Linked DNA regions of Homo sapiens. The protein of the gene in region 1 interacts with the protein of each later gene in a pairwise test. Each region holds a gene or a part of one and is shown in the gene's direction. Other genes may lie near its edges.

What was found.
Region 2: the proteins of DNAAF4 (region 1) and BANF2 interact in binary tests that used the Homo sapiens proteins (3 or more experiments, as listed by UniProt).
Region 3: the proteins of DNAAF4 (region 1) and SPDL1 interact in binary tests that used the Homo sapiens proteins (3 or more experiments, as listed by UniProt).

The regions. Positions count from the first base shown.
Region 1 is NC_000015.10:55,503,290-55,513,348, reverse strand, and holds the start of DNAAF4 (dynein axonemal assembly factor 4), read left to right. Parts: upstream 1-5,114; 5' UTR 5,115-5,227; intron 5,228-10,059.
Region 2 is NC_000020.11:17,694,365-17,704,573, forward strand, and holds the start of BANF2 (barrier-to-autointegration factor-like protein), read left to right. Parts: upstream 1-5,601; 5' UTR 5,602-5,691; intron 5,692-10,209. UniProt on the Homo sapiens protein: May play a role in BANF1 regulation and influence tissue-specific roles of BANF1.
Region 3 is NC_000005.10:169,591,942-169,601,996, forward strand, and holds part of SPDL1 (protein Spindly), read left to right. Parts: intron 1-1,412; coding exon 1,413-1,607; intron 1,608-2,203; coding exon 2,204-2,353; intron 2,354-2,452; coding exon 2,453-2,551; intron 2,552-2,629; coding exon 2,630-2,740; intron 2,741-4,619; coding exon 4,620-4,760; intron 4,761-6,534; coding exon 6,535-6,638; intron 6,639-7,030; coding exon 7,031-7,218; intron 7,219-9,338; coding exon 9,339-9,684; coding exon of another isoform or gene 9,685-9,883; exon of another isoform or gene 9,884-10,055. UniProt on the Homo sapiens protein: Required for the localization of dynein and dynactin to the mitotic kintochore.

The DNA.
Region 1 (10,059 bases):
ATTCCTAGGTTTGGACTGCCCTTACGAATTGGCTTAGATAATGGGCCGGCGTTTGTGGCTGACGGTTTTTGAAATAAGATTAAGGGCTGAAGACTAGTGGGGACGCGTAAATGATACAAGTAAAGTAATAGCCAGAACAGAAGAGAAAGGGGTGCCCAAACACATAATCTTGAAATTTGATGCCTGTGCTGTCATTAGTGGCAGTAAATTAGGAAAGGGATGTGGCTCTTTTGGGAAAAAGGCGATATGACTGAAAATAAGTACATTTGTCATGAATTAGGACTGTGTGGAAATGAATGTGAACACTGGTCTTGTGTCATTTAGGCCACTTGGATAAAAAAATGAAAAGGATCCAGTCCACTTCAGAAAGGAAAAAGTGGCCCTTCCTGTACTAAGGGACAATGTAACCCCTTAGAGCTAGCAACAACCAATCCCCTTGATCCTTGCTGGAAAAGAGGGGAGCATGTGACCTTAGGAATCGATGGGGCAGGACTGGATCCTTGAGTAAATATCTTAGTTCGAGGAGAAGTTTACAAACGCTCTGCTCAGCCAGTGTTTCAAACTTTCTAAGATGAACTAAATGTGCCAGTACCAGAAATTCCAGGAAAAACAAGAAATTTGTTTTTGCAATTAGCCAAGCATGTAGCCCAGTCTCTCAGTGTCACTTCATGTTATGTATGTGGAGGAACTGTGATGGGAGATCAATGGCCATGGGAAGCCCAAGAATTAGTACCTACAGACCCAGTTCCCAATGAATTCCCAGCTCAAAAGAGTCACCTTGATAATTTCTGGACCCTGAAGCCTCAATTATTGGACAATATTGCATAGCTAGAGAAGGAAAATAATTCACTCACCCCTTAGGACAACTTAGTTGTCTGGGACAGAAACTGTATAATGGTACCACAAAAACAGTCACTTGGTGGAGTTCAAATCACACAGAAAGGAATCCATTTAGTAAATTCCCAAGGTTGCAAACCATGTGGACCCACCTGGAGTCCCACTAGGACTGGACAGCCCCCACTGGATTATACTGGCTATGTGGGCATAGAGCTTACGCTAAATTACCTGGCCAGTGGGCAGGTAGTTGTATTACTGGCACTATTAAACCATCTTTCTTCCTACTGTCCATAAAGACAGGCGAACTCCTGGGCTTCCCTGTCTATGCTTCCCATGAAAAAAGAAGCATAGCTATAGGAAATTGGAAAGATAATGAATGGCCCCCAGAGAGAATCATACAATATTATGGACCTGCTACTTGGGGACGAGATGGTTCATGGGGATACTAGACCCCCATTTACATGCTCAACCAAATCATATGGTTACAAGCTGTCTTAGAAATAATCACTAATATGGGCTGGGCGCGGTGGCTCACACCTGTAATCCCAGCACTTTGGGAGGCCAACGCAGGTGGATCACGAGGTCAGGAGATTGAGACCATCCTGGCTAACATGGTGAAACCCCGTCTCTACTAACAATACAAAAAATTAGCCAGGGGTGGTGGCGGGTGCCTGTGGTTCCAGCTACTTGGGAGGCTGAGGCAGGAGAATGGCGTGAACCTGGGAGGCAGAGCTTGCAGCGAGCCGAGATTGTGCCACTGCACTCCAGCCTGGGCGACAGAGTGAGACTCCATCTCAAAAAAAAAAAAAAAAAGAAAAGAAAGAAAGAATCACTAATAAAACCGACAGAGCCTTGACTATTCTGGCCTGTCAAGAGACTCAGATGAGAAATGCTATCTATCAAAATAGATTGGCTCTTGACTACTTGCTAGCAGCTGAAGGAGGGGTCTGTGGGAAATTTAACCTTACTAATTGCTGTCTACACGTAGATGATCAAGGGCAAGTAGTTGAAGACATAGTCAGAGATATGATAAAACTGTCACATGTGCCCATGCAAGTGTGGCATGGATTTGATCCTGGGGCCATGTTTGGAAAATGGTTCCCAGTGTTAGGAGGATTTAAAACTCTTATAATAGGAGTTATATTAGTAATAGGAACCTGCTTACTGCTCCCTTGTTTGCTACCTGTACTTCTTCAAATGATAAAAAGCTTCATCGCTACCTTAGTTCACCAAAATGCTTCAGAACAACTGTACTATATGAATCACTATCGATCTGTCTTGCAAGAATACATGGGTAGTGAGGATGAAAGTGAGAACTCCCACTAATTGACTGAGGTTCTCAAAGTGGGGGAATAAGGGAGGAGACCACCCCTCATATTGTCTTATGCCCAATTTCTGCCTCCAAAGAAAGAAGTAAAAATTAAAAGGCAGAAATGGAATCCACAGGCAGATAGCCCAGCATCACGCCCTGGGCCTGGTAGTTAAGAATCAACCCCTGACCTAACTGCTCGTGTTATCTATAGATTTCAGACATTGTATGGAAAAACATTGTGAAAATCCCTGTCCTGTTTTATTCCGTTCTGATGACCGGTGCATGCAGCTCCCAGTCACGTACCCACTGCTTGCTTAATTGATCACGACCCTCTCACGCGGACCCCGTTAGAGTTGTAAGCCCTTAAAAGGGACAGGAATTGCTCACTCGGGGAGCTCGGTTTTTGGAAACGTGAGTCTGCTGATGCTTCCAGCTGAATAAAGCCCTTTCCTTCCACAACTCGGTGTCGTCTGAGGGGTTCTTGTCTGTGGTTCGTCCCGCTACACGTACAGGGTAATGGTTTAATATTTCATGAATAATATTAATTGTATTTCAAAATTAATGTGGTTAAATATACTGATATACTTTAATACATTTTTTCAACAGTTTAATGTTTTGGCATAGATAATAAATACAAATAGGAATTTGCATTTATCTAATGACAAAATGTTAACATTTTAAACTCTACTCAGTTATAAACTAAACTCAATTTTAAAATGTTTAAAAAATGTGTGGATGACACAAAAACAAACCTTCATGTTTGTTTATATTCTCCCCTTATTAATCCTCTTTAAGGATTAATTAAGCCTACAAAATTCTACTTTAATAATAGTTGTTCTCCTTAAGAGTCCCTTAAAACTTTTTTTTTTAATTAAATAACTAGGCCAGGTGTGGTGGCTCACACCTGTAATCCCAGCACTTTGGGAGGCTGAGGTGGGTAGATCCCCTGAGGTCAGGCATTCAAGACCAGCCTGGCCAACATGGTGAAACCCCGTCTCTACTAAAAATACAAAAAAATTAGCCAGGCATGGTGGCGCATGCCTGTACTCCCAGTTACTAGGGAAGCTGAGGCAGGAGAATCACTTGAACCCAGGAGGTGGAGGTTTCAGTGAGCCAGGATCACACCACTGCACTCCAGTCTGGGCAATGGAGCGAGACTCCGTTTTGAAAAAAAAAAAATGAAATAAGTGGTATTGTGCCAAAACAAGTCTAATAGGAAAAACAATCAAGCTCATACCCTATAAATATATATCTAAGATATTAGGACCCAAAAGAAAAGGAAAATTATGCAGGGTCACTTCACATTCTACATGACCTCTACCTAGATATTCTCATTTAATTTTAAATCACATTATCATTTCCGAAAGCCCAAATTTAAAATAGTAAAATAACTAATGCATTTAACACCTAGTGCCTAGAGTTTGGTCTGTAAAGCTATTCTCCACTAAATAGAACTAAAAGTTCTTGGAGAATTTCAATTCCTAGAGAAAAAAAAAGAAAAGAAAAACCTTTAAGGTGGACCTAAGTGATCTTGCTACTAGAATGAGGGATTTTTTTAAATGCCTTTTAAAGTTCCAAAGTGGTGTTAAGAAAACATAGAAAGCAACCTTTTCCAATGGCAAAATTTCGAATTTTGCACATCAAAAGTAAATAAAATTATAGGTAATTAATTTTAGGTTACGAATAGTAAATCATACTTAATTTTTGCTCCATAATGTATGCTTACACTCTCTAAGAACCTCAGGATATGAAATAAGGAAATAAGTATGCTTGTGTACTATAGAGATTGTTTTGAAATTTTTACTTTAAACTTGTAATATTTTTTACAAACAAAATAATTTATGGATTTACATACATAAACTATTAATAATAAAAGGAATAAGTATAAATCTATCACTGAAAATTACAGAGAGAGGAAAAAAATAACCTGGTGATATGGTTTGGCTGTGTCACCACCCAAATCTCATCTTGAATTGTAGTTCCCATAATCCCAACGTGGGGACCCAGTGGGTGATAACCGAATCATGGGGGCAGTTACCTCCATGCTGCTCTTGTGGTAGTGGGTGAGTTCTCATGAGATCTGATGATTTTATAAGGGGCTTCCCCCTACTTTGCTCTGCACTTCTCCTTGCTGCGGTCATGTGAAGAAGGACGTGTTTGCTTTCCCTTCCACCAAGATTGTAAGATTCCTGAGGCCTCCCCAGCCTTGCAGAATTGTGAGTCAATTAAACCTCTTTCCTTTATAACCCAGTCTTGGGTATGTCTTTATTAGCAGCGTGAGAACAGACTAATACACCTGTCAGTCTCCTTCATGCTTTCTGATTGCACGCTTTAATGCAATGACCAGAATCAAACAGAAACGACCTTGGGTGTTTTCTCTGGATTTTCCTGGGCAACCAGCCAGTGGGACCTGGACCTTCTGGCTCACAGTTGGAGGGGCTACACCTGAACTCAGCTTTTCATGGGATGGACAGTTTCTTCCAACACAAGTTCCAACAACTTTCTGTTTGACCCAAGGTCTCCAGATACTGGATAATGGGCTTTTTCAAAAAATACCTATCGGGCCGGGCGCAGTGGCTCACGTCTGTAATCCCAGCACTTTGGGAGGCCGAGGGGGGCGCATCACGAGGTCAGGAGATTAAGACCATCCTGGCTAACACAGTGAAACCCCGTCTCTACTAAAAATACAAAAAATTAGCCGGGCATGGTGGCGGGCGCCTGTAGTCCCAGCTACTGGGGAGGCTGAGGCAGAAGAATGGCGTGAACCCGGGAGGTGGAGCTTGCAGTGAGCTGAGATCGTGCCACTGCACTCCAGCCTGGGCGACAGAGTGAGAGTCTGTCTCAGACAAACAAACAAACAAATAAATGCCTGTAAACAGACTGCCTGGTGCTCTAGTAGTTTCCTTACTGACAAAATTCTTTTTGTGTGTGCCCTATAAATAGGAGAGCAACAAGAGGATGGGATTCCTCTCCTATTATGCAAACCCACACCATGGATCCAGCAGACTACTCTGGCCCCAGCATGCTGCTCCTTGGGATGATGGGAGAAGGGGGAAACCTGTGTTTTCTCTTGGTTTTGTAAGTTTCCCCTTTCCCCAGTAAAACTCATCCCTTAATCTAGTGGTTCTCAAACTTTGGTGTGTATCAAAATTATCTGGTAGGCTGGATAAAACACAGATTGCTGTGCCCCACTTCCAGAACTTCTGGTTCAATAGATCTAGAAGGAGACTGGGAATTTGCATTTCTAACAGGTCCCCAGATGATGGTAATATTGCTGGTGGTGGTGGGGAGGACCACATTCTGAGAACCTCTGTATTTAATTTTATTTGTATTTATTTATTTTATTTATTGTTTTAATTTAATTTTTGAGTCCCTGTTACTCAGGCTAGAGTGCAGTGGCATAATCATAGTCCACTGTAACCTGAACTCCTGGCCTCAAGTGACACTCCCAAAGTGCTGAGATTACAGGCGTGAGACACAATGTGCATCCCGGGCCTTCGTTTTAATTCATACAGTGTGACTATGTGGTAATCAGTTCTGTTGGTTACCAAAAAGGCTCCCACTTGTATGAACTTCACATAAGAGTTAACCACTCTCCTTTCTAGTGCCTATCTTTACAGACGACCCCTGACTTATGATGGTTTCTCTTTGATTTCCTAACTTTACAGTGATGCAAAAGCTATATGCATTCAGTAGAAACCATGCTGTGAGTACCCATACAACCATTCTGTTTTTCATTTTTAATACAGTATTCAATAAATTACAGGGTATATTAGACACTTTATTACACCTTATTATGTTAGATGACTTTGCCCAACTGTAGGCTAATGTAAGTGTTCTGAGCATGTTTAAGGTAGGGTAGCCTAAGCTATGGTGTTTGGTAGGTTAGGTGTTTTACATGTATTTTTGACATAGGATATTTTCAACTTATGATGGGTTTATCAGGAGGTAACCACATTGTAAGTAGAGAAGTGTTTGTATAGTTTTACCACATACCTAGGAATCCTTATCTAGTGGATTCAGTTTCCGTTGTTCAAAAGTTTTATAAAGGCCAGGCATGGTAGCTCATGCCTGTAATCCCAGCACTTTGGGAGATGGAAGTGAACGGATCACCTGAGGTCAGAAGTTCGAGACCAGCCTGGCCAACATGGTGAAACCCCACCTCTAATAAAAATACAAAAAATTAGCCAGGCTTGGTGGTGGGTGCCTGTAATCCCAGCTACTCAGGAGGCTGAGACAGGAGAATCGCTTGAACCTGGGAGGCAGAGATTGCAGTGAGCCAAGATGCCCCATTGCACTCCAGCCTGGGTGACAAGAGTGAAACTCCATCAAAAAAAGAAAAAAGAAAAATAAAAAAGTAAAAGTTGTATAAAATAGCATTATTTCTTGAGGATATTATTTGACTTGCTTTTTTCACTCATCCATCCAATGTATAGCTATCATTCACTCATTTTTATTGTTGTATAATATTCTGTTTTGTGTATATACCTGTTGAAAGACATTTGGCTTATTTTCAGGTTTTTTTCTATGAAGTTGCTATGAACACCTATAAATGTTTCCTAGTGTATAGGACCAAGACTTTTTCTAGGGCAGTAATTCTCAGATGGGGGAAATTTTGCTATTCCCACCCACCCCTGAAACCCAGAAGACATTTGGCAATGTCTGGAGACACTTTTATTATTAGAACTCAGGAGTGTTACTAGAATTAAGAGGGTGGATGCTGCTAAACATCTTAAAATGCACAGAGCAGCCTAAATTATACAAAATGATCCAGCCTATAATGTTAATAGTGTGGAGGCTGAAAAACCCTGTTGTAGGACAGTGGTTCACAAAGCATCAGCATCACCTAGGAACTTGCTAGAAATCTCTAAGATAGATACATAGGAGTGGAATTGCTGGTTATAAAATAAGCAGGTATTCACATTAATAAGATTATGCCAATTTGCCCATTTTATTGTGGGGTTGTGTTTCTTTTTCTCTATATATTTTGTTTATATGTTCTCTTTGTTTATTATTGAGAAAGAGGGCAAAAAGCAGCCCCTGATATTCAGAAGCTGACCTGGCACTCACAGCTTGGCCATAATATTATTCTGTTGAACATTAACAATTTAAATCTCATAGAATACCAAGCTGAGACAAAAGTACTCTGAGATCACAATAAAATGAGACAAGGCCACTTCATAGCATTATCTAAGCATAGGCAAAAACAAGGTCTTTGTGTCACCCATAAGATAACAGACACCCCCTTTCTGGATAAAATGTACAACAGCTACTTTTTTTATTATTATACTCTAAGTTCTAAGGTACATGTGCACAACGTGCAGGTTTGTTACATAGGTATACATGTGCCATGTTGGTTTGCTGCACCCATCAACTTGTCACTTACATTAGGTATTTCTCCTAACGCTATCCCTCCCCCAGCCCCCCCACCTCTCAACAGGCCCCAGTGTGTAATGTTCCCCTCCCTGTGTCCATGTGTTCTCATTTTTCAACTCCCACTTACGAGTGAGAACACGTGGTGTTTGGTTTTCTGCCCTTGTGCTATTTTGCTGAGAGTGATGGTTTCCAGATTCATCCATGTCCCTGCAAAGGACGTGAACTCCTCCTTTTTTATGGCTGCATAGTATTCCATGGTGTATATGTGCCACATTTTCTTTATCCAGTCTATTATTGATGGACATTTGGGTTGGTTCCAAGTCTTTGCTATTGTGAATAGTGCCTCAGTAAACATACGTGTGCATGTGTCTTTATAGTAGCATGATTTATAATCTTTTATATATACCCAGTAATGGGATTGCTGGGTCAAATGGTATTTCTAGTTCTAGATCCTTCAGGAATCTTCACACTGTCTTCCATAATGGTTGAACTAATTTACACTCCCACCAAAAGTGTAAAAGTGTTCCTATTTCTCCACATCCTCTCCAGCATCTATTGTTTCTTGACGTTTTAATGATCACCATTCTGACTGGTGTGAGATGGTATCTCACTGTGGTTTTGATTTGCATTTCTTTGATGACCAGTGATGACAAGCATTTTTTCATATGTCTGTTGGATGCATAAATGTCTTCTTTTGAGAAGTGTCTGTTCATATCCTTTGCTCACTTTTTGATGGGGTTGTTTTTTTCTTGTAAATTTGTTTAAGTTCTTTGTAGATTCTGGATATTAGCCCTTTGTCAGATGGATAGATTGCAAAAATTTTCTCCCATTCTGTAGGTTGCCTGTTCACTCTGATGATAGTTTCTTTTGCTGTGCAGAAGCTCTTTAGTTTAATTAGATCCCATTTGTCAATTTTGGCTTTTGTTGCCATTGCTTTTGGTGCTTTAGTCATGAAGTTTTTGCCCATGCCTATGTCCTAAATGGTATTGCCTAAGTTTTCTTCTAGGGTTTTTATGGTTTTAGGTCTTACATTTAAGTCTTTAATCCATCTTGAGTTAATTTTTGTATAAGGTGTAAGGAAGGGATCCAGTTTCAGCTTTCTACATATGGCTAGACAGTTTTCCCAGCACATTTATTAAATAGGGAATCATTTCCCCATTGCTTGTTTTTATCAGGTTTGTGAAAGATCAGATGGTTGTAGATGTATAGTGTTATTTCTGAGGCCTCTGTTCTGTTCCATTGGTCTATATATCTCTTTTGGTACCAGTGCCATGCTGTTTTGGTTACTGTAGCCTTGTAGTATAGTTTGAAGTCAGGTAGTGTAATGCCTCCAGCTTTGATCTTTTTGTTTAGGATTGTCTTGGCTATGCGGGTTCTTTTTTGGTTCCATATGAACCTTAAAGTAGTTTTTTCCAATTCTGTGAAGAAAGTCATTGGTAGCTTGTTGGGGATAGCATTGAATCTATAAATTACCTTGGGCAGTAGGACCATTTTCGCAATATTGATTTTTCCTATCCATGAGCATGGAATGGTCTTCCATTTGTTTGTGTCCTCTTTTATTTCACTGAGCAGTGTTTTGTAGTTCTCCTTGAAGAGGTCCTTCACATCCCTTGTAAGTTGGATTCCTAGGTATTTTATTCTCTTTGTAGCAATTGTGAATGGGAGTTCACTCATGATTTGGTTCTCTGTCTGTTAATGGTGTATAGGAACGCTTGTGATTTTTGCACATTGATTTTGTATCCTGAGACTTTGCTGAAGTTGCTTATCAGCTTAAGGAGATTTTGGGCTGAGGCTATGCGGTTTTCTAAATAGACAATCATGTCGTCTGCAAACAGAGACAATTTGACTTCCTCTCTTCCTACTTGAATACCCTATATTGCTTTCTCTTGCCTGATTGCCCTGGCCAGAACTTCCATTACTATATTGAATTGGAGTGGTGAGAGAGGGCATCCTTGTCTTGTGCCGGTTTTCAAAGGGAATGCTTCCAGTTTTTGCCCATTCAGTTTGATATTGGCTGTGGGTTCCTCATAAATAGCTCTTATTATTTTGAGATACGTTCCAACAATACCTAGTTTATTGAGAGTTTTTAGCATGAAAGGCTATCGAATTTTGTCAAAAGCCTTTTCTGCATCTATTCAGATGATCATGTGGTTTTTGTCTTTGGTTCTGTTTATGTGATGGATTATGTTTATTGATTTGCGTATATTGAACCAGCCTTACATCCCAGGGATGGAGCCGACTTGATCGTGGTGGATAAGCTTTCTGAGGTGCTGCTGGATTCGGTTTGCCAGTATTTTATTGAGGATTTTTGCATCGATGTTCCTTAGGGATATTGGCCTAAAATTATCTTTTTTTGTTGTGTTTCTGCCAGGCTTTGGTATCAGGATGATGCTGGCTCATAAAATGAGTTGGGGAGGATTCCCTCTTTTCCGATTGATTGGAATAGTTTCAGAAGGAATGGTACCAGCTCCTCCTTGTACCTCCAGTAGAATTCGGCTCTGAATCCGTCTGGTCCTGGACTTTTTTTGGTTGGT
Region 2 (10,209 bases), on another chromosome or scaffold:
GAGCAGAGGTCTTCTAGGTGCAGGGATCAGCATGTGCAAAGGCCCTGAGGCAGGAGGGTGTTCGACAATCTTAGGAACTGAGTGGAAGCTGGTGAGGAAGTAGTGCTCATGAGCAAGGAGTTAAGAGGTCAGAAACAAAGGTAAGCCCTGGATTTATTAATATATTGTGTGAAACATTGCATCTAACATTGTAGTGTTTTATAGTTTGCAGGGGGCTATTTTTGTTTTTTCTCTCTCTTTTTTTTTTTTTTTTTTTTTTTTTTTTTTTTATTGAGACAGGGTCTTGCTTTGTTGCCCAGGCTGGAGTGCAGTCATGCCATCACAGCTCACTGTAGCCTTGACCTCCCAGGCTCAAGTGATTCTCCTCCCTTAGACTCCCAAGTAGCTAGAAATAGAGGTTCGTGCCACCAGGCCTGGATAATTTTTTTAAAATTTTCTGTAGAGACAGGGTCTCACTTGGTTGCCCAGGTTGGTCTTGAACTCCCGGACTCAAGCAATCTTCCTGCCTCAGCCTCCCAAAGTGCTGGGCTTATAGGTGTGAGCCACCGCACCCTGCCTGCAGAGGGCTTTGAACATACACTATCCTAATTCAATCATCCCAACAAACTGATTATATAGATAAGAAAACTGAGGCTCAGGAAGTAACTTCCTTTAGGTCATAAAACGAGGAAGTAGTGGGACAGGGACTTTGACCAAGGACTCTGTTTGCAAAACTCCAGAGTTTTTATAGACCACCATAAGCACTTGCCTTTAGCAGCTTGAAATTTTTAAAAAATGAACATTTTTCATTCTGTTATTTAAAAAGTAAGGCTGGGTGTGATGGTGTAATCCCAGCACTTTGGGAGGCTGAGCCCAGAGGATTGCTTGAGCCCAGGGGTTTGAGACCAGCCTGGTCAACAAAGGGAAGACCCCATCTCTACAAACAATAATTAAAAAAAAATTAGCTGGGCATGGTGGCATGCCTGTAATTACTCGGGAGGCTGAGGCAGGAGGATTGCTTGAGCCTGGGAGGTCAAGGCTGTAGTAAGCCATGTTCACAAACCTGCACTCCAGCCTGGGGTACAGAGCAAGACCTTGTCTCAAAAAAAAAAAAAAAAAAAAAAAAGTAGAGTCGCATAGGTAAAATTTTGGTAAATTTAAGAAGATACAAAAATTACCTATAATCTCATCTGTGAAACATAACAACTAGCACATTTTAGTGTATTCTTTCCAGTTTCTTCCCCTAGAAAAACCTAGGGTGTGTGTGTGTGTGTGTGTATTACACATTACATATGCACACACCACACATACATATATGTGTATATAGTCACCTTTATTGAGGTGTAATTTACATGCTCTAAAATTCACACATTAAGTGTACAAGTTGATGAATTTTGACAAATGTATACACCCGAGTAATCATCGCCATGATAGAGATCTGGAATATTCCCTTCATCCCATGGAGTTACCTGTGCCATTTAACCTGTTCCCCCATCCCCCACTCCAGGCAATCATTGACCTTATCTCTGTAGCCTCAGATCAGTTTTGTCTATTCCAGGACTTCATATAACAGGAACCATGTGTGTACTCTTCTATGTCTGGCCTCTGTTGCTCAGCATAATGTTTTCAAGGTTTATCATGTCATCATATATGCATCAAGAGTTTGTTCCTTTTGTTGCTGATTAATATTTCATTATAAGAATATACATTCACCTATTAATGGACATTCACCTGTTAATGGACATTTGGGTGTTTTTGGTTTGGGGCTATGATGAGTAAAGAAGTTATGACCATTCCTGCACAAATCTTTTTATGGACATGTTTTCTTTTTTCTTATTTATTGTAGAGATAGGGTCTTTCTATATTGCCCAGGCTGGTCTTGAGCTCCTGGCCTCAAATGATCCTCCTACCTTGGCCTCCCAAATTACAGAGATTACAGGCATGAACCACCACACCCAGCTTGTAGATGTGTTTTCATTTGTCTTGGGTAAATACCCAGGAGTAGAATCCTAGCTTATAGGGTAGGTCTTTATGTTTAATTTTACAGGAAACTACCAGACAATTTTCCAAAGTGGTTATATTATATTACATTATGTGAGAGTTCCAGTTGCCCCACATCTTTGTCAACACTTAGTATTGTTGCTCTTTTTAATATTAGCCATTCTGGTGGGCATGTAGAGGTTTTAATTTGCATTTACCTTATCACTAATAATGTCGAACATTTTTTCCCAGGTAAGTGTTTTTATAGTTGTAATTCTTTGTCTGGAGGCAGAACTAAAGACTGTTTGAGGCCATTTTTTGAGTCCTGGGTAATGCTGAAAATATTGATATTGTTATTGATGCAATGCTCTGGTACAGTAGGCTTCATTCTTCCTCTAGCCAAGTTGAAATGTGGAGGAAAATAACTCTGGGTGCCATGTTGCTAAAGAAATGATTTGTGTGAATGATCAGCCAAGCCGCGATTGGATCTTTTCAGTGGCAGTTCCAGAATTTCAGTACATGCCGTGTCTGATTGGAAGAATGGGAACTGGACTTGAAGAGTACTTTCTCGACATGGTGTTTTCATTTGGATTGTAGTGTGTTAGCAGGATCTCTAAGAGATCTGATGGTGATGATGATGATGGTGATGATGATGATAATGGGGAGGAGAATGTGGAAGGAGTTAGGGTGGAAACTAAGGCTCCCTGCAAAAGCTATGGCAGAGTTGGATTAATCCTACCACAGTGCAGGTGTGAGGCTGGGTGTAGCATGGTATTGAGCAGAACACCTAGGAAAGCATATTAATCCTAACAGGCCAGCAGATATCCCTAGCGAGCCTTCTCTAAACACCTGAAACTCCCCCAAAAGCATGAACAAGAGCCATATTTTATATGGTGCTAGCTCCACCTCCATATTCTTATTCCAGGAGGAATTGTCCAGGGAGATGGAAAGCAGGTGGAATTTGTGTAGCAAATCAGTCCCCTGGGGGTAGCACATTCAGGCCTCCCTGTGCAGAGGAAAAGGCCTTTGGGCCAGGTTGCCAGGCCTCCCCCTGAGCATATCAGCTCATGTGTTTCCTCAAGACATTCCTAATGATACTCCAAAGGCCAACCAGCAGAACACCTCCATCTGCCCTGAGACCTGACACTCACCGGTTCCCAGACATTCTGAATTATACCAAGCCAATTTATATAGTTTCTCCATCTAAATGTGAACTTACAAAGAACAGACATCATTTCTTATTTACAAAGTCTTAGTTTGGGTTCCCCCTGAAGCAGACCCTGAAACAAGGATTTGAGTGGAAGCAGTTTATTTGCAGTTTGATCCCAGGAAACATAGGTAGGGGAGCGGGGAAGTGAGGCAGGGGATGGGGGCAACAATGTGGGGTATGTTAGCAAGCCAGTTGCCACTGTGGGCACTGATATGGTTTGAATATTCGTCCCCTCCAAATCTCACGTTGAAAAGTGATTGCAATGTTGGAAGTGGGGCCTGGTGGGCGGTGTTTGTGTCCTGGGGGCAGATCCCTCATGAATGTCTTGGTGCTGTACTCATGATAGTGAGTTCTTGTGAGAGCTGGCTGTTTAAAAGTGTGTGGTACCCGGCCGGGTACGGTGGGTCATGCCTATAATCCCAGCACTTTGGGAGGCCAGGATGGGCGGATCATCTGAGGTCAGGAGTTTGAGACCAGCCTGGCCAAAAAAGTGAAACCCCATCTCTACTAAAAATACAAAAAAATTAGCTGGGAGTGGTGGTGGGTGCCTGTAAATCCCAGTTACTTTGGAGGTTGAGGCAGGAGAATTGCTTGAACCCGGGAGGCGGAGGTTGCAGTGAGCCGAGATCACGCCATCGCATTCCAACCTGGGCAACAAGAGTGAGACTCCATCTCAAAAATAAAAAATAATAATAAAAAAAAAAGGTGTGTGGTACCTCCCTTGCCTTGTTCCCACTCTTGCCATGTGATACACTGGCTCCCTGTTTACCTTCAGACATAATTGTCAGCTCCTTAAGGCCTCACTGGAAGCAAAGCAGGTGCTGGCACCGTGCTTCCTGAACAGCCTGCAGAACTGTGAGCCAATTAAACCTCTTTTCTGTGGAAATTACCCAGCCTCAGATATTTCTTTATAGGAAGAGAATGGCCTAGCATAGGCACCTACGGGTGGGTCCTGTGGGTCCTCTGGGACATGGAACAGGACATGACTCCAGGTTATTCCACCTGAGCAGGGAGGGAGCTGGGTTATTTATCTACCAACTGATAATAGTCATTGAATGAGGACATTCTGCAACTTGCAGCTGCCCGCTTGTAGGCAGGGTGGACTCCAGCAGCTGGCAAAAGCCCCCAAGCAAAGATACGCAGGTACTGGCAGCTGGGAGTCAGATTACCTTTGTACAATGAAGTTGTAAGGCCAAGAGGCTATGGGCAGGGCACTGACAACGTCAGTTGTGCTTCCCCAAAACGTGGCTCAGTTCTGGCAATGAATAGATCCTCAGTAAAGCGTGCTGGTTGAACCCAGAGAGCTCAGCCAGCTTTGGCCCCAAAGCTACAGCTCCTGTTTATTCTCCAGCAACCCCTGAATACTGCCATCAGCTGGCAATACTATTTCAGGATCAAACCTAAGATACCAGCACCCTTACATGTTCTTAAAGTGTGTAGTCTCAGAGCAAGCAGCCTCAACGTCATGTGGGAACGTGTAAGAAATGTGAATTATTGGGTTCTCCCCCAGACCTAATGAGTCAGAAACTTTGAGAGTGGGGCCCAGGAATCTGTATTTTAACGAGTCTTCCAGGTCATTCTAATGCAACCTACAGTTTAAGACCCACTGTTTTGGACTCTAAAATTTAGGGCCACCCAACAGTTTCCAAAGCGAAGCCGTTTGCTCTTGGTTAGAACTCCTCCATCCCCAATCCCAAGCACCAGCAGCAAAAGGGAATGGAATCTCTGGAAACATTTTATACTTTGCCCCCTTTTTTGAGTTTTTCTTTTCTTTTTAGGCTTAGTAAATATACATTGTACCAAGTTATCAATTACCAACAATGGAAAGTAGCCCAGGCATATATGCTATAGAGGATAACCTAAAAGACACCTGTGTTGAATTTAACTTGAAGGTGGGAGGATTTATATTTCTGCTTGTTTTCCTGAGCTAATATTTAAGTTACTTCTCTTTCCTTGAGTCCCTACCAGGTGGGCAGTAGGGGGAAAGTCACGGGTATACTGGTAGAAGAAAAAGCTGCCCTGGAATTTCAAGTCCATCACAGAAGATGTGCAAGGAGCTGGGGGTACCCACGGAAGTCACTTTGTGCAGGAAAACTGCATGAAGGATGGACTTGGTTTAACTGAATTGACGCAGGCCAGGTGAGAATAGGAACCGTGGCAGCAAGTGGCAGCAGGTGGATTCATAAGCAGTCTTCCAGGCTGATGTTTTCTGTACAGCAGACATCCCTCACTCTTTCCCAGCAACCCCAGCTGAGAACAGCACCCAGACAGGCTGATTTCTTCTGGAGAGGCCTGAGGCTCTTGCTCCTGCCCTGCCCTGTGCCCTGATGCCAGCAGCCACTGCAGCCCTTTTTGTGCTCACCCCCGACCTGTGGTGTGACATCACAATGTAGTCCATTCAGGATCTTGAGACTGATTTGCCCCATGGGCCTAAGACATAAGCTGAACCTCTGGCCTGCAGTTCCAGATCCAAGGTGACTGAGACAAACTGCCAGCTGCCACTGGCTTATCAGGAGCACCTGGTGAGTATTCAGAACTTTCCCAAGCAGCATGGAAGGAGATACAGCCAACAGCTGGCTGTCTTAGCACTTTAAGGTCTCATTCTCACACAGGTTTAGATGAGCCAAACCGGTGGACAGGAGTTCACCAGGTAAGCCCCAAACTCTTCCTAGGAAAGCTGACTCACCTGATGCACACACCCCTTCCCAGCCTCTTCCTGCTGTGTCACCATCTGCGGGAGGTGGTACTCTAGTCTCCCCTAAGACTCGGCTTGCCACCTGCACCAGCTCCCTGGGCAAAGGTCACCTGTGTTCTTAATAGAGCAGAGAGGCCAGGCTTTCAGATGGCAAATTCACTAGAGCATCACTTCTAGCCCTAATTGAGGTCAGGGACAGCCATTGGCCAAATGACACACCACATAGCAGGATGAGCAGAGGTAGCTGACACAGCCACCTCCCGTCCAAAATGTGAACGACGGTCCTTCCTTTCTGTAAGAGGCCTTCCTGCTTTGGCTGTTTTTAAATCCACCTCCTGGTGACCTGCTGGTATATCAAATCACTTCCTTTCCTTTTGGGACAGTAAGAGAGCTTTAGGATCGTGACGGGAAATAAGGAGATGGATTAGAACACCAGGAAAGTGGGCAAAATCTAAGGTAGCGGGGACAGGGACAGAGGCCAAAGCCATCTCTCAAAGAGGATGCTGGCTCTTTCCATATGGGCCACCTGCACTCGGCTGAGGGTGGTTTGAGACTCAAGGCCTTCTATAACAAACAGTAGGGACCCGTTCTGGGCCCCAGGAGGCACAGCTGCCTTCCCTACCATGGCCCATTCGTGTTTTCCCACAGTCTGTCTACGGTCCATTCACCATCTGTGAGTGCCAACACGTCCACACAGCTGCAGCTGCGTCCCTTCTCCCACAAAGGAGTGGCTTCTATAGGGACCCCATGATTTTAAGAAGGCTCCTGGCTCTCCTTGACTGTGTAAGGTAGAAAGGGAGGTGGTGGGGGGTGGATCAGAGAAATATTTTACCCTTAGGCTTTGCCATCCCTCCTTAGTTTTATATGTGATGGGCTGAAGCCAACCTCTGCTTCACACACAAATCCAAGACGCCAATGGTTCACCAAGCATGCTAAGAACATTTTAGCCTATGTTAGGCCCCACTGGAAAAGGAAAAAAGACAGTAGAGGGGCCGGCGCTAGAGCAACCTGTGGTCCCCGTCCTGCAGCAGGTTTAATTTGGAGAGGAGAAAGGGAGCAAACGCTGAACCTCCCGTGCCAGACCCACCAGCTATGTTATTGCTCTTAATTCCGACCTCTGTGAAGCAGGTGTTCTCAGGTTCATTCTACAGACATAGAAACTGAAGACTGTTCTGTGCTGGTGCCACGTCTAAAGAGGGTCATTAACCTGGAGCATGCCTTCACTCTCTATCGACTATCCCCAACATTAGAGCTCTCTGAAAAGAGAATGGGCTGCTTTGCAAGGCAGCAAGAGTGTGCAGGCCACGGCTCTTCCATCAGCATGGAAGGGAACGGGATTCTTGTGATCAGCTGGGAGCTGGACCAAAAGACCTTTAAAGGCTGTTTCCAAATCCAAGATTGTAGGTTTCTGGGTGTTAGTACTTTGCCCACCCTCTGCGATTGAACTCAGGTGGGTCACGCCTTAAGGACGGCTGCAAACTTTCTGTTAGGCAAGGAGAACTGGGAAGAACCATAGAGATCAGCTACGGGCCCCAGGTAGGAAAGAGGAACCCAGGCTGGTTGAGGGAGTTTTCCAAGGCTCCAGAGCCAATTTGCAGAGTTAACCTGTGTTGACTGAACAAATGGAGGAGCCAGTTCTGAGTGCTGATCAAACGTTCCCATGCCCATCTCTCTCATTCACCTGGTTCTTTCCTATCAAGATTATGATTCAGCCACCATTTACAAAATGCCTGCTGCATGCCAAGTGTGTTTCCAGAGATTATTCCACCTACTCCTCCCCAGCTCCATGAGGTGGGTGTCATCAGCCCCGTTTCTCAGATGAGCATGGTTAGGTAACCACCCCAGAGGATCAGGTACTTGTGGAGATGTCATAAATACTAAATGACGAAGCAGGTCTTTCTAACCCCAAGGAAAACTTATGTCTCCATCTGCCGCCTCCCAGCTTGTGTGAGGAAGCAGGGTCTCCTTTCTTAGCCTTTCCCTAAGGCAAACTGCCATCGATGTGCCAAGTTCCACAGTGCCTATTTCCAGCTCCTCTTGGACGTTGCCCTGATGGATGCTGAACTCCCTGTGGGCCCGCCTGTTTCACTGGCCCGGCCCCTCACTCTGATGGGGCAAGATGGAGCGATGTCTATACACGGACAGATGTTATGCACCAAGGAAGAAAATCTGCTAATCGAAAGCAGCTTCAGCTAATTGTGGCACTCTCCCTTCTGCGTGGTGCCCTGAAATAGTAGCCATGCTCTGTTCTTTTTTCACATCAGGGAGCCCCAACTGGCAACTTAAATGAGGTTGCAAAGAAGTCAGTTACACAGACCTCTGCTGCCAGTTTCCATGGATGAGGCCTTGCTGATGCTCCTTGGATAGGACCCGTGTGCAACTGTTTGTGGACTTGGCTTCTTGCTGTGGATAATTTGGACCCACTGTTGGGCTGGAAAAGCCTCATTTAACCCTGGGGAAAACTGGAACCTTCAGAAATTTAATGGAATACTAAGCCCAAGAACACATGGTCTGACCTTGAACCCTGGTTCTGATCTGCTTCTGAGTTATTCTATAGCCATCTCAGCCAACAGAACCGTCACGGGAATATTCTGTCTCTGTGTTGTCTCATATGATAGCCACTAGGCACACAGGGCCACTGGGCACTTGGGATGTGGCCAGTGGGACTGAGGAGCTGCGCTTGTTGTTTAAATGGAAGCTTAGATTACATAGCCATCGGTGGCTGGTGGCGGTGTGCTAGACGCTGCTGCTCTGGGCCCTGCTGACTTTTGTGACTTCATCTCTGATCTCATTCCCCTCTCCTGGCTTTCCCTTTCCCTCTGCCTTCACTCCCAGACCTCCTGTGCTTTTTGATTTTTGCATTTGCTGTTCTCTCTGCCGGCATCACTTTTTCCTCTGATCATTTTATGGTTTGCCCCTGTTCAACAGGAGGGCCTCAGATCAAGTGTGTGTCTTCAGAAAGATCTTCCCTATTCTACCTAATTGTGTCCCCAGCCCCATTCCAATTGCTCCTTATCTCTCTGAAGTTACGTTTGTGTGTTTTCTTGTCTACTGCCCTATCCCTGGATAAAAATCCCAGTTTCACCAGAGCAGGGATGCAGTCTGCCCTCTCCCACTCCATCTCTGTGCCTGGAACAGCGCCTGAGAGGCAGAAAGTGCTCAGTATGGTGCTTACAGTGTGTGAACATTCTGCAGGACAGCCCCCTCCTTCAGTGAGGAGGAAAGGCGGTCATGGCCCCAGTAACTTCTGCTGTGTGACAAAATAACATGAGCACAGCGGCCTAGAACAGCAAAGATTCGTATTTCTTCCAATTCTCTGGGTCTGGAATGTGAGCAGGACTCAGTTCCACATTGTGTCACTGAGGGTCACTCAGCTGGGGGCTAGGCTGGACAGGGTGGCCCAAGAAGGCCTCACTCACACAGCTGGGACTTTTGGGCTCTCCAAGAAACATCTCTATGCGGTTTGTCTGGGTTTTCTTACAGCATGGAGGTCTCAGGGCAAGTAGGCTGACTTTTTTTTTTTTTTTTTTTTTGACAGTGTCTTGCTCTGTTGCCCAGGCTGGAGTGCAGTGGTGTGATCTTGGCTCACTGCAACCTCCGCCTCCCAATCCTGGGTTCAAGCGATTCTCCTGCCTCAGCCTCCTGAGTAGCTGGGATTGCAGGTGCCTGCCACAATGCCCAGCTAATTTTTGTGTTTTTAGTAGAGATGGGATTTCACCATGTTGGCCAGGCTGATCTCAAACTCCTGACCTCAGGCCTCTGCCTCGGCCTCACAAAGTGCTGGGATTACAGGTGTGAACCACTGTCCCCAGCTGGCTTCTGAGAGAGGAAGCAGAGGCTGCCAGGCCCAGAACTGGCAGCACCATTTTTATCACCTTCTACCGGGCTAACTAAGCCATAGGGCGAGAGCCCAGATAAAAGGGGAGGGGAAACTGTCCACTTCCTGGTGGGTGGGCAGGATGTTCATACCAGCAGGAAGGGGTCTATGGACACGCTACACAGTCACTTCAACAGTGCTGTGGTAGTGCTTCTCAACTTTGATCATGCACATGGGCCATCTGGGGTCTAGTTAAGATGCAGATTTAGTAGGTCTGGAGTGGAGCCTGAGATTCTGCATTCCTAACAAACTCCAAGAGACGTCAAAGCTGCAGGCCCACAGGCTGCACGTGGAGTAGCAAGGCTGTATTAGAATGCATCCTATCAGGACTGAGCCTATGCTTAGGTTTGACATTGCAGGGCCCTCAATTCCACTTCTAGAGTGGACAGCACTTCTTTGGGTTAAGCATTACCCACTGTTGCTGAGGTCTACATGATCGGTCCCTTCTTCCCAGGCATCTGGGCTTGT
Region 3 (10,055 bases), on another chromosome or scaffold:
TCAGGTTGCTTCTGAGGAATCCAGAACTTTTTATCATGGATCTGCTTTGTGTATAGTCTATACTCTGACTTTTCCAGACACTGTCTACCAAAACTTGCCTGACTTTTGTCCTCCTTTCTCAGAAGTCTGTTACCCAATTTTCAGCTTCTTGTATAGCAGCCTCTAAGATTTTTCTTTTTCTGTATACCACCTATACTATTACTTAATTTCTCATTGACTCTCTTTTAATGTTTACTGATTTTAAGAAACATCAATGAAAGTATTTTTTTTTCCTTTTTTTTTTTTTTTTTTTTGAGGCAGAGTCTCACACTGTCGCCCAGGCTGGAGTGCAGTGGCATGATCTCGGCTCACCTGCAACCTCTGCCTCCCGGGTTCAAACGATTCTCCTGCCTCAGGCTCCTAAGTGGCTGGGATTACAGGTGTGCGCCACCACGCCCAGCTAATTTTTGTATTTTAATAGAGACAGGGTTTCACCATGTTGGTCAGGCTGGTCTCTAACTCCTGACCTCGTGATCCGCCCACTTCAGCCTCGCAAAGTGCTGGGATTACAGGCCTGAGCCACTGCGCCTGGCCAAAATTACATATTTAAGCTTGCTTATTTTTTCCCAGTATACACTAAAACAAACATAGCTATCTAAATATACCTTCATGTAATATATAATCATCTTGCATACCACTCTGACAGATAATATCATCCAGCTTGTCTGAAACTAGTCGGATTTGAGGCCCTAATGACTGATAATGATGTGCTTTCTTCCCCCTCTGGTTGTTATTTTTATTTTTGCAATAGTTTTCATCACCTAAACAAAAAAGAGTAATAAAGGGAGTATTCAGGACTGAGGTAAGGCTAATTATAGAGATGGCTTTTTTTTTTTTTTTTTTTTTTGGTGGAGCAAAGAGTACATTAGTGAAATATTTTGTTTTACTGATTTTCTCAAATCACTTATGCCAAAATTTGGATTTTTTTAATACCTTTTCTTCTCTTATTTTTCACATTTAATTCATCAAGTTCTAAGAACTTGACCTACAAAACATCTATGACGCTACTGCCACTCCAATCCAGACCTTCATCATCTCTTTCCTGGACTACTGCTGTAGCCTTCTGACCAGGTTGCTTGCTTCCATTGTTTCTCTTCATGCCAGTCATTCTTCACACAGTAGCCAAGTGGTCCGCATCATAGTGCCTCCAGATTGCTTCTGAGGCATCCAGACCCACCCCGATTACTCATGGATTATTTCTATGTTTATTAAACAAGGTGTGTCACTAGCTGTTAAAAGATGCCTAACCTTGGGCAAATAGGAAACTCCAATAGTATCATCATTCAGTAAGTTTGGTTCAATCAGTTCAATCAGTGATTGTTTTTAGAAAGAAAATAACTTTCAATTTATGACTTTTTTTTTTTTGGCTTTAGATAGAAAAACTGAAAGTGGAATTAGATGAAGCCAGGCTTAGTGAAAAGCAGCTGAAGCACCAAGTAGATCATCAGAAGGAACTCCTCTCTTGTAAATCAGAGGAACTGCGCGTAATGTCTGAACGTGTGCAGGAAAGCATGTCTTCAGAGATGCTGGCTCTTCAAATTGAGCTGACAGAAATGGAGAGTATGAAGGTAATTTTTATGGCATGTGTTTCTCAGGGTTTTCTCTTTTTTTTTCTGGCATATTTTTACATGTTTTGGTAATAATTCTTAAGAGCTAGTTTGAAGGCTGAAACATTTTTTGACCTAACTTGCATCTAACTAATTAAAAAATGGGTTTTTTTTAGGTGGATGACTTCATTCATAATATAGCTTTAGACTATATGATTATGTAAGGCAGCCTTTCTCTTAGATTAATGAAACGTCTGGAAGAATTTAGAGGCATATACTCTGATCCCAGATTTTATCGTAAGAGCCCAGTGTAAAACGTTGGCTCAGTGGAAGTTGAAATGCATGTGAACTTGGTTTTTTCATTGAAAGCTAAGGTTAATTAAAAATTAAAGCCTGAAATTGATAGAGGAAAAAGGGCAGTCTCTAAAGCCATTTGTTTCCTTGTTGAAAAATTTAACAGTAATAGTAATTTCTATTATTTTAGAATGTACCTGACAACTTTTGACTGGTTCTTTAGTTTTAATTTTGGATGTGAACCACAACTGAGATAAACTGAGCAGCTGCCAAATGAAAGATTATTCAAGAGAATTTCCTCCTTTTCAATTCCTGTTAAATAGACCACCCTCAAAGAAGAAGTGAATGAACTACAATACAGACAAGAACAGCTAGAACTTCTTATTACTAACCTAATGCGCCAGGTAGACCGGCTTAAAGAGGAAAAAGAGGAGCGAGAGAAAGAAGCAGTTTCTTACTATAATGCCCTAGAGGTACTATGATTACAGTAACATCATGTTTTCCAATTTATCATAACTTATTTTCTTGCTAATGTAATCTCTGTTGCCTAAATTGTTTTCTTTTGAATTTAGAAAGCTCGTGTAGCAAATCAAGATCTTCAGGTACAGTTGGACCAGGCACTCCAGCAAGCCTTGGATCCCAATAGTAAAGGCAACTCTTTGTTTGCAGAGGTACTTATAAGTATCCTAACTACTAAATTGGTATTTTCATTTACTACCAGAACAATTAAGCATGTTAATATTTTGTAGGTGGAAGATCGAAGGGCAGCAATGGAACGTCAGCTCATCAGTATGAAAGTCAAGTATCAGTCACTAAAGAAGCAAAATGTATTTAACAGAGAACAGATGCAGAGAATGAAGGTATAGAACTTTCACTATCAAAGGTTTATTAAACAAATTTTGTGTCAGCATTACATGTATGAATACATCAAAGAAACTAGCTTTTTCTGCAAGGAGTGTACTTATATAGTTGTTTCTAGAACTGCATGATTTCAAAAAATCAATTTTGAAATTAAAAGATTCATTTATAGTTTAAAAATCTTGGAATAAATATTTAGTAATAGTATATTTAGCAATGATTATTGTTTGTTTTAATGGTTACTCACTAGCTTTGACTTAAATCTTTCTTTGTGGAGTAGAAGAAAGAAAAGTATTTATTTCTTATTCTTGGCCTGATGTCTTTCCAAGCATAGCCCTAGGGTTCCTACTTCAGCTGAAACTCGCTGCCTCACCATTCCTCTGCTCTTTCACCAAGGCTTATTATGGAGTGAAATTTGGATTATTCAGGGTTCCCTTTCCTTGTAGCTCCTCAAGTCAAGCACATAGACCCTTTTAATTTTACGGGTTTTGTTGGTTGTCATTCTAGCCAAATAAGAGGTAGCAGAAAAACATGTGGGAATTAGAAAGATTTCAGTATTGTAACAGTCCTTAGAATCCTGATCCCTCATCCATTGTGCCTCACTCTACTGAGGTAGTAATTGGAATCTGGAAAGGCTTCCTTCCTTTTATTCAGAATCATGGGCTTTGCCAAAGAAATGGGAAAGGTTAATGATTAAATTTGGGAGTTAGGTGGATTTGGGTTTGAATCATAGTTTTGTCACTTGCTAGCTCTGTGACCTTGGACAAGTATTTTAACTTTGAAAGCAACAGTACCTCATCTATTAAGTGAAGATGATAGAACCCCCTCTTAGAATTGTCCTACAGTTAAATGAAAGTGTAGTAAAATACTTAACCTGCTACTTGGCAAATGAGTGTTTAATGAACAACAGCTGTGAATTTTATTTCTAAGGGTTTCCAGACTGTGCTGCCTCATTTCCTGAGACTCTCCCCTGTCTGGGAAGTATTTCTTTATAAATTTTCTCACGTTTACTTTAGTTTTCTTACAGTATTTGTTGGGGTTACTTTTAATCTACCAATGTTGCATATGTCCCAAACTATCTTTAGAGACTAGAAGCATTCTGAGTCTTAGGCTAAGTGGGCCTAGCCTCCAATCTGAAACAGGAACAAAAAGGATATCCTTTAAAATGTTAAAAGTCATCTGCAACCTCATATCATTGATTGTTTTACTCAAAACTATATTTAAACTAATAGGCACTCTTTTCAACTCCAGAAATTTCCAAAGGCAGAAAGAAATGCTAGATTTAGAGTCTACTTAATTTCCCTCTGGTAGCTTCACAACTCCAGATTTGGGGTGGGGGAGGTATAATGAGGTAAGTTGAGTGCTGCTCTAAAAAAATTAAAACATGGTATATTGAAGATTACCCCAGTATACTAAGATAGCCTTTTATCTTTGCTTTTAACGTCATTTGTGAATCTAACATTTGTGGCTGTCAGTAGCTTAGTTTTCCTCACTTAATTAAAGTTAATTAAAAATTTTGAGAAACCCATCAGAACCTTAATAAGAGCGAGTGCTTATGATAAGCAGTCTGCAGCGTTTGGCCAGGCTTACTTACCAGTTCAGTGGTGTGCTTTCAGACCACAGCCATGCAAGTCAGTTTTATGTTTCACAAAAGTACAAATAATTACATTACAGACTTCAGTTATCATTCATAAGTAGTCAAAATAAGTATTCAAATGTTATGTCTACAAAAAAATTTATTATTAGATTAGAAATAGCTAATTTAGTTTCCAAAATGAGTTCAAAGTAATATAGTACAAATTATGAATTGTATCAAAAAAGTAGTTATCAGAATCTTTCTCTCACTTAATTTTATTAGAGGGGGTAATTTTATTTTTCTAGTTACAAATTGCCACGTTGCTACAGATGAAAGGGTCTCAAACTGAATTTGAGCAGCAGGAACGGTTGCTTGCCATGTTGGAGCAGAAGAATGGTGAAATAAAACATCTTTTAGGTGAAATTAGAAATCTGGAGAAATTTAAGGTATGTATAACAGTTAAAAAAACACACATCCAAATTTTGATTTGAATATCTTAAAATTTGGTTTGTTTTTTAAGTTTAAATTATTAATAAATATCTTGTGGGAGATACTTTGAGACTAAGTAAATGGCTGTTTCTCCTTATACTTAAACATCCATTGGTGATTCTTGCCTGAAACATAATTCTGTGATGATTGCTAAATGGGTAATTCCATCACTTCTTCTATATTTATTAGTTGGAATTTTAGTAAAGGGACAGAAAAGAAAAATCTTTTTCCTCACTTACTCATTCATTTATATCAGTATAGCCTCATGGATTCTTATTTTATCCTATGAGTTATAATCCATTGCTTGCTTTATTTACTCTGATACTCAAATTGTCCCAGATTTGATAGTCGAAGTGCTCTTACTTGAATATTTCCTTACTCTATGGCACAACAAGGGTTTCCTAGCTCACCTGGCCCACTTCTGGGATTAGCATTTCTTCAAGGAACATTGGTTTATTTTAGTTGAGAATGGTATTTGTGTAAGCATTTGTGTGTGTGTGTGTGTGTGTGTGTGTGTGTGTGTAAGAATTCACCCATGTTTTCTAAATAAGTAGGCAGTTGTCCCAGAGTCATTTGTTAAAAAATCAATCTTGATCCCAGTGATTTGAGTTGACACCTTTATCATACATCAAGTTTCCATATATACTTGAGTCTGTTTCTAAATTTTCTGTCTACGCCATTGGTCTGCTTCTCTGTGTGTCTGTACCACACTGTTTTATTAATTATAAAGGCTTTTAAGTATGTTTATCTGGTAGGACTATTTCCTCACTATACTTTTTATTTTTCAGTATTTTCCTGTCTATTTTTGAATGTTAGCTTTCATTTACAAACATCTTGTCTAGCACCAAAAAAAGCTTGTTGGCTTTCTATTAAAATTGCATGCAATTTAAGATTTTATAAATTGACTTAGGGAACATTGATATCTTCATTAACCTCCTAATGAACTAAAGTTCTAAATGACAAATTTTTGTAAATGTTAATAACCTCTTAGGCATTCTAAATTGTAGCCATTAGTATGTCATAAAATCTTAATTAAGTTTACATAACTTTATTTCTGTGTCTTATAAAAACTGTTGAAAGAACTACAAATTTGGTTAAGTTGGCAGCCTTATGTTTCCATCAGTGGGCTCAGAACTATACTCTGAAAATTATGGCCTTAAATCAGGGGAATTTTATTTATAACCTGAAATTGTTTCAAGTTTTTAAGCAGATTTACCTTTTCTATCCCACTAGAGAAATGTATAGTTTCCATCAGTCTCAGAAGAGCTTGCACTACATTCTTGCCTGGGGTGGGGGGAAGAATCTCAGAAGAGGGGGACACCAGATATAAATGTAAGGCTCTCATCTTCCTTTCATATTTTTCCAGTTTATGGTTTTGTTACAAAGGCCAGAATTTAATCCAGCAGGCATTTGTTTTTCTATTTTCAAAGCCAGGAGAGAGAAGGCAGAGCATGTAGGTAAGGCTAGAAGCCTAGGCCTTGTAGTCAGATTTGGGTTCAGGTTCTCTCTTCTTGGTTTACTTTCATCTGTATTCGGAGCCTGTTTCCTTATCTGTAAGAGAGGAATGTTAATTATTTACCTACTTCAGAAGGCAGATAAATTAAATGGGTAGTTCTTAGCGTAGTACGCCAAGGGATATAAATTCAGGAAGTGATGGTGCTATTATTAATAAACATACACTAACCTTATTTGTTATTTATTTTAAGTAATACAAACTTTTGCTTTTTTAAGAATTTATATGACAGTATGGAATCTAAGCCTTCAGTCGACTCTGGTACTCTGGAAGATAACACCTATTATACAGATTTACTTCAGATGAAGCTGGATAACTTAAAGTAAGTGTCTGGGTTGGTGGATGGAAAGATGAACATGTCACTTGCTTACTATGGTAGTGTCAGTGACTACAAAGTTTTTTTGAAATTGCCAAAGGAAATTTTCCGAAAAGAAAGGTAACAAAAATATCTTTGTGCAGATATTCATGTGTGAATACATTTGAAAGACTATTTCCTCCTTTGTCCATTTCCTTTCAAGAATGCATGAGTATTTTTTAAATTTAACACTACTATTGTTAAGGATTATTTAAATTGTTTATTGTTTCTTTGTTACTAAAAACCCCAGAAAAATGTATTTTTAACTAAGAATTCAAATATGCGATGAAATATTTATACCACTACACTTATTATATGCTGTCTTAATACTCGTTGGTTCTCCTTTTTTATTATCATAGCAAAGAAATTGAAAGCACTAAAGGTGAATTGTCCATACAGCGAATGAAAGCATTATTTGAGAGCCAGCGGGCTCTAGATATTGAGCGAAAACTTTTTGCAAATGAAAGATGCCTCCAGCTTTCAGAAAGTGAAAATATGAAACTGAGAGCTAAACTAGATGAATTGAAACTAAAATATGAACCTGAAGGTATATATGTCTCATATATTTTTGTCTTTTAAATTATGAGTAACCTGAAATTATATCAAATTATTTTCTTACTGTAGTTTTATGCAACTCTATTACAAACTCATTTGTAGTTATATACCTATAGTTAATAAAGCAAATTTATTGTGTAAAATAGGTAGGAAAATTCAGGGAGAACTGGATACTGGGTGTGCCTGAATATAACATGTATCCTTTTTGGATATCTAATTTCATCATACTGTATAGTAGAAACTTGAGATTTGAGACTTTCCCATTTTAAGATTACAGTATTTTATGTCATACCTAATAGTTTAATTATGTTGAAGCAGCTGATGTTTGGAAGCTATACGAGGTAGGACTGTTTATAGAAAATCTAAAGTAATGGAGACTTTAAAAAGGTGGGTCTTTATCTCTGCCTCTGATGGAAGTCTGGAGGAGGCCTTCCAGGACTGGGAAAGCACTCCACGGTATCAAGATTCAGGCTTCTTGTGTTTGTTGGTCTGCTGCCATCCTGTGGAGCAGAATTTAGTCATGCAGCCTCACCTGCTGACAGGAAGGGCTGAGAAATGCAGTCTTGATTCTCAGGGGCCATGTTCCTAACTAAATATTGGGAATTCTTTTATTAAGGAAGAACAGTGAGCCAGGCGTGGTGGCTCGTGCCTGTAATCCCAGCTCTTGGGGAGGCAGAGGGAGGAGGATAGCTGTGCCCAGGAATTTGAGATTTGCTTGGGCAATATAGCAAGACCCCATTCTCCACCAAAATGGGGGGGAAAGGAAAGAACAATGAAACATATTAGGGAATATCTAGCAAGTCTAATGACTGAGCTGGAAAGTAGCCTAACCATACAGTCTCTGCATCTTATATACTACAGAGAGTGAAGTTTACTGTATGTAAATTCAAAAACAAAAGGCCAAGTGTGAAGGAGTCTAAGAATGTGATGGTTCTACAACACCCCTTCCCTAAAAGAGTGTTACATGTTTTAGGTTAAGGATTCTCAACAAGTTTTTGTCCCCGCACTCTGCACATGCCTCAGTCTCTCTTCGTATTGTCTCAGTGAACTGCTATGATTCTCAACAATAGTGGGGAGGTTGCCAAAAATAGGAAGGTTTTTACACAATTTTAAAAGGCTTCTCTTGCTCTTAACTCTTTTTGTTTCTTCCATGATTCTAATAGGCTCCCCTGATTAAGAATTATCCATTATGAATTTCAAACATCTGTTGAACTGAACACAGCAAATAGACAGGAGGCAGGGTAGTGAATCCTGATAATGTGGGTTTCAAAGGAGCAGTGCCAGAAAAAGGGGAAATCATGGTCTAAAAGCAACAATGTAGAGCAAAAACAGCAACCCCTTGTGCTACCAGTGTTCCTCAGACTCCACTAACATTTTGATTTTGAAAATGAAACACATCGATAATGGGCATAGGGAAAAGATATTAGAGCAGTTAATTCAGTGGCTGTGTTTATGACCTGTTTAGATAGAATGATATTAGGCCATGAGGATAGAAGGCATTGCAGTAGTCTTTGATGAGACATGATAGGATTGGACTAGGGAAGTATCCATCATAAAAGTAGTCTGATTCTGCTTATATTTTGTAGGTAGAGCTAACAGGCATATATTACCAATATTCAGAAAGTTTGGCCTATTCTTGTCATTTAATCCTTCTAATACACAATACCAAGTGAAGTGGGTGCTTTTAATCCCCATTTTACAGATAAAATGAAGCTCAGAGAGGTTAAATAATTCCCCAAAGACATGGCTGTCACATACGAGGATTAGGATTCGAACCTGGACTCTGCCGCTGTCTCTTCATCTCCACACTGAGATCTTATGAACCACCTTTTTCAAAACACCAAGAGAGAACAGTGAAGCATTCATGCCTAAAGTCAAAATATTGAATTCCCAAGGAAAAATATATAGCCAAATAAACTTTAAAATATATAGTTTATATAGATTCCATGATAAAGAATAAAAGGTAGAAACAAAGGATGCATTTCAGTGAGGAGATGGTTGCATTTTAAAAGAATGGAAAAAGGTATACATATAACTAGTTCTGGCTTCTTGTGTTGATTGTGTCTTTGTTTTCTTAGATTTTTTCTTTTCCCCACTCGTTTTTATTCTCAGAGACAGTTGAAGTGCCTGTACTGAAAAAGAGGCGTGAGGTGCTCCCTGTGGATATAACCACCGCTAAAGATGCATGTGTCAACAACAGTGCTCTCGGGGGAGAAGTTTATCGATTACCGCCTCAGAAAGAGGAGACACAGTCCTGCCCTAACAGTTTAGAAGATAACAACTTGCAATTAGAAAAATCAGTTTCTATATACACACCAGTAGTCAGTCTCTCTCCTCACAAAAATCTGCCCGTGGATATGCAGCTGAAGAAGGAAAAGAAATGTGTGAAACTCATAGGAGTTCCCGCTGACGCTGAGGCCTTAAGTGAAAGAAGTGGAAACACCCCTAACTCTCCCAGGTCAGTGTCCTCTTTTCCTCCAGGCAGCCAGCAGACCTCTCCATCTCTCCTCTCTCGCTGCATGAACTGTGCTGTCTGTTTCTTTATCTACTTTCTTACAATTGCATGCAGTATAATTCCTCAGTTTCATCTACCTACCTTCAACTTTTCCAGAACTTTAAGAAAGACTAAACTGATTGCAAAGGGAAAGGACTCTTGAATAAGGCAATCACATTAAAAAGTTACACGTTTCTGTTTCATGAAAGGGAATATCACAGTTTAACACATCTCTGAATGTTTTATCAGTTTGAATACATGTACTGTTATTTTTCTCCTGGTTCAAGCATGGCCATGAAAGAAAAATTAACTTACTTTCTCAAAGGGCTTTCCAG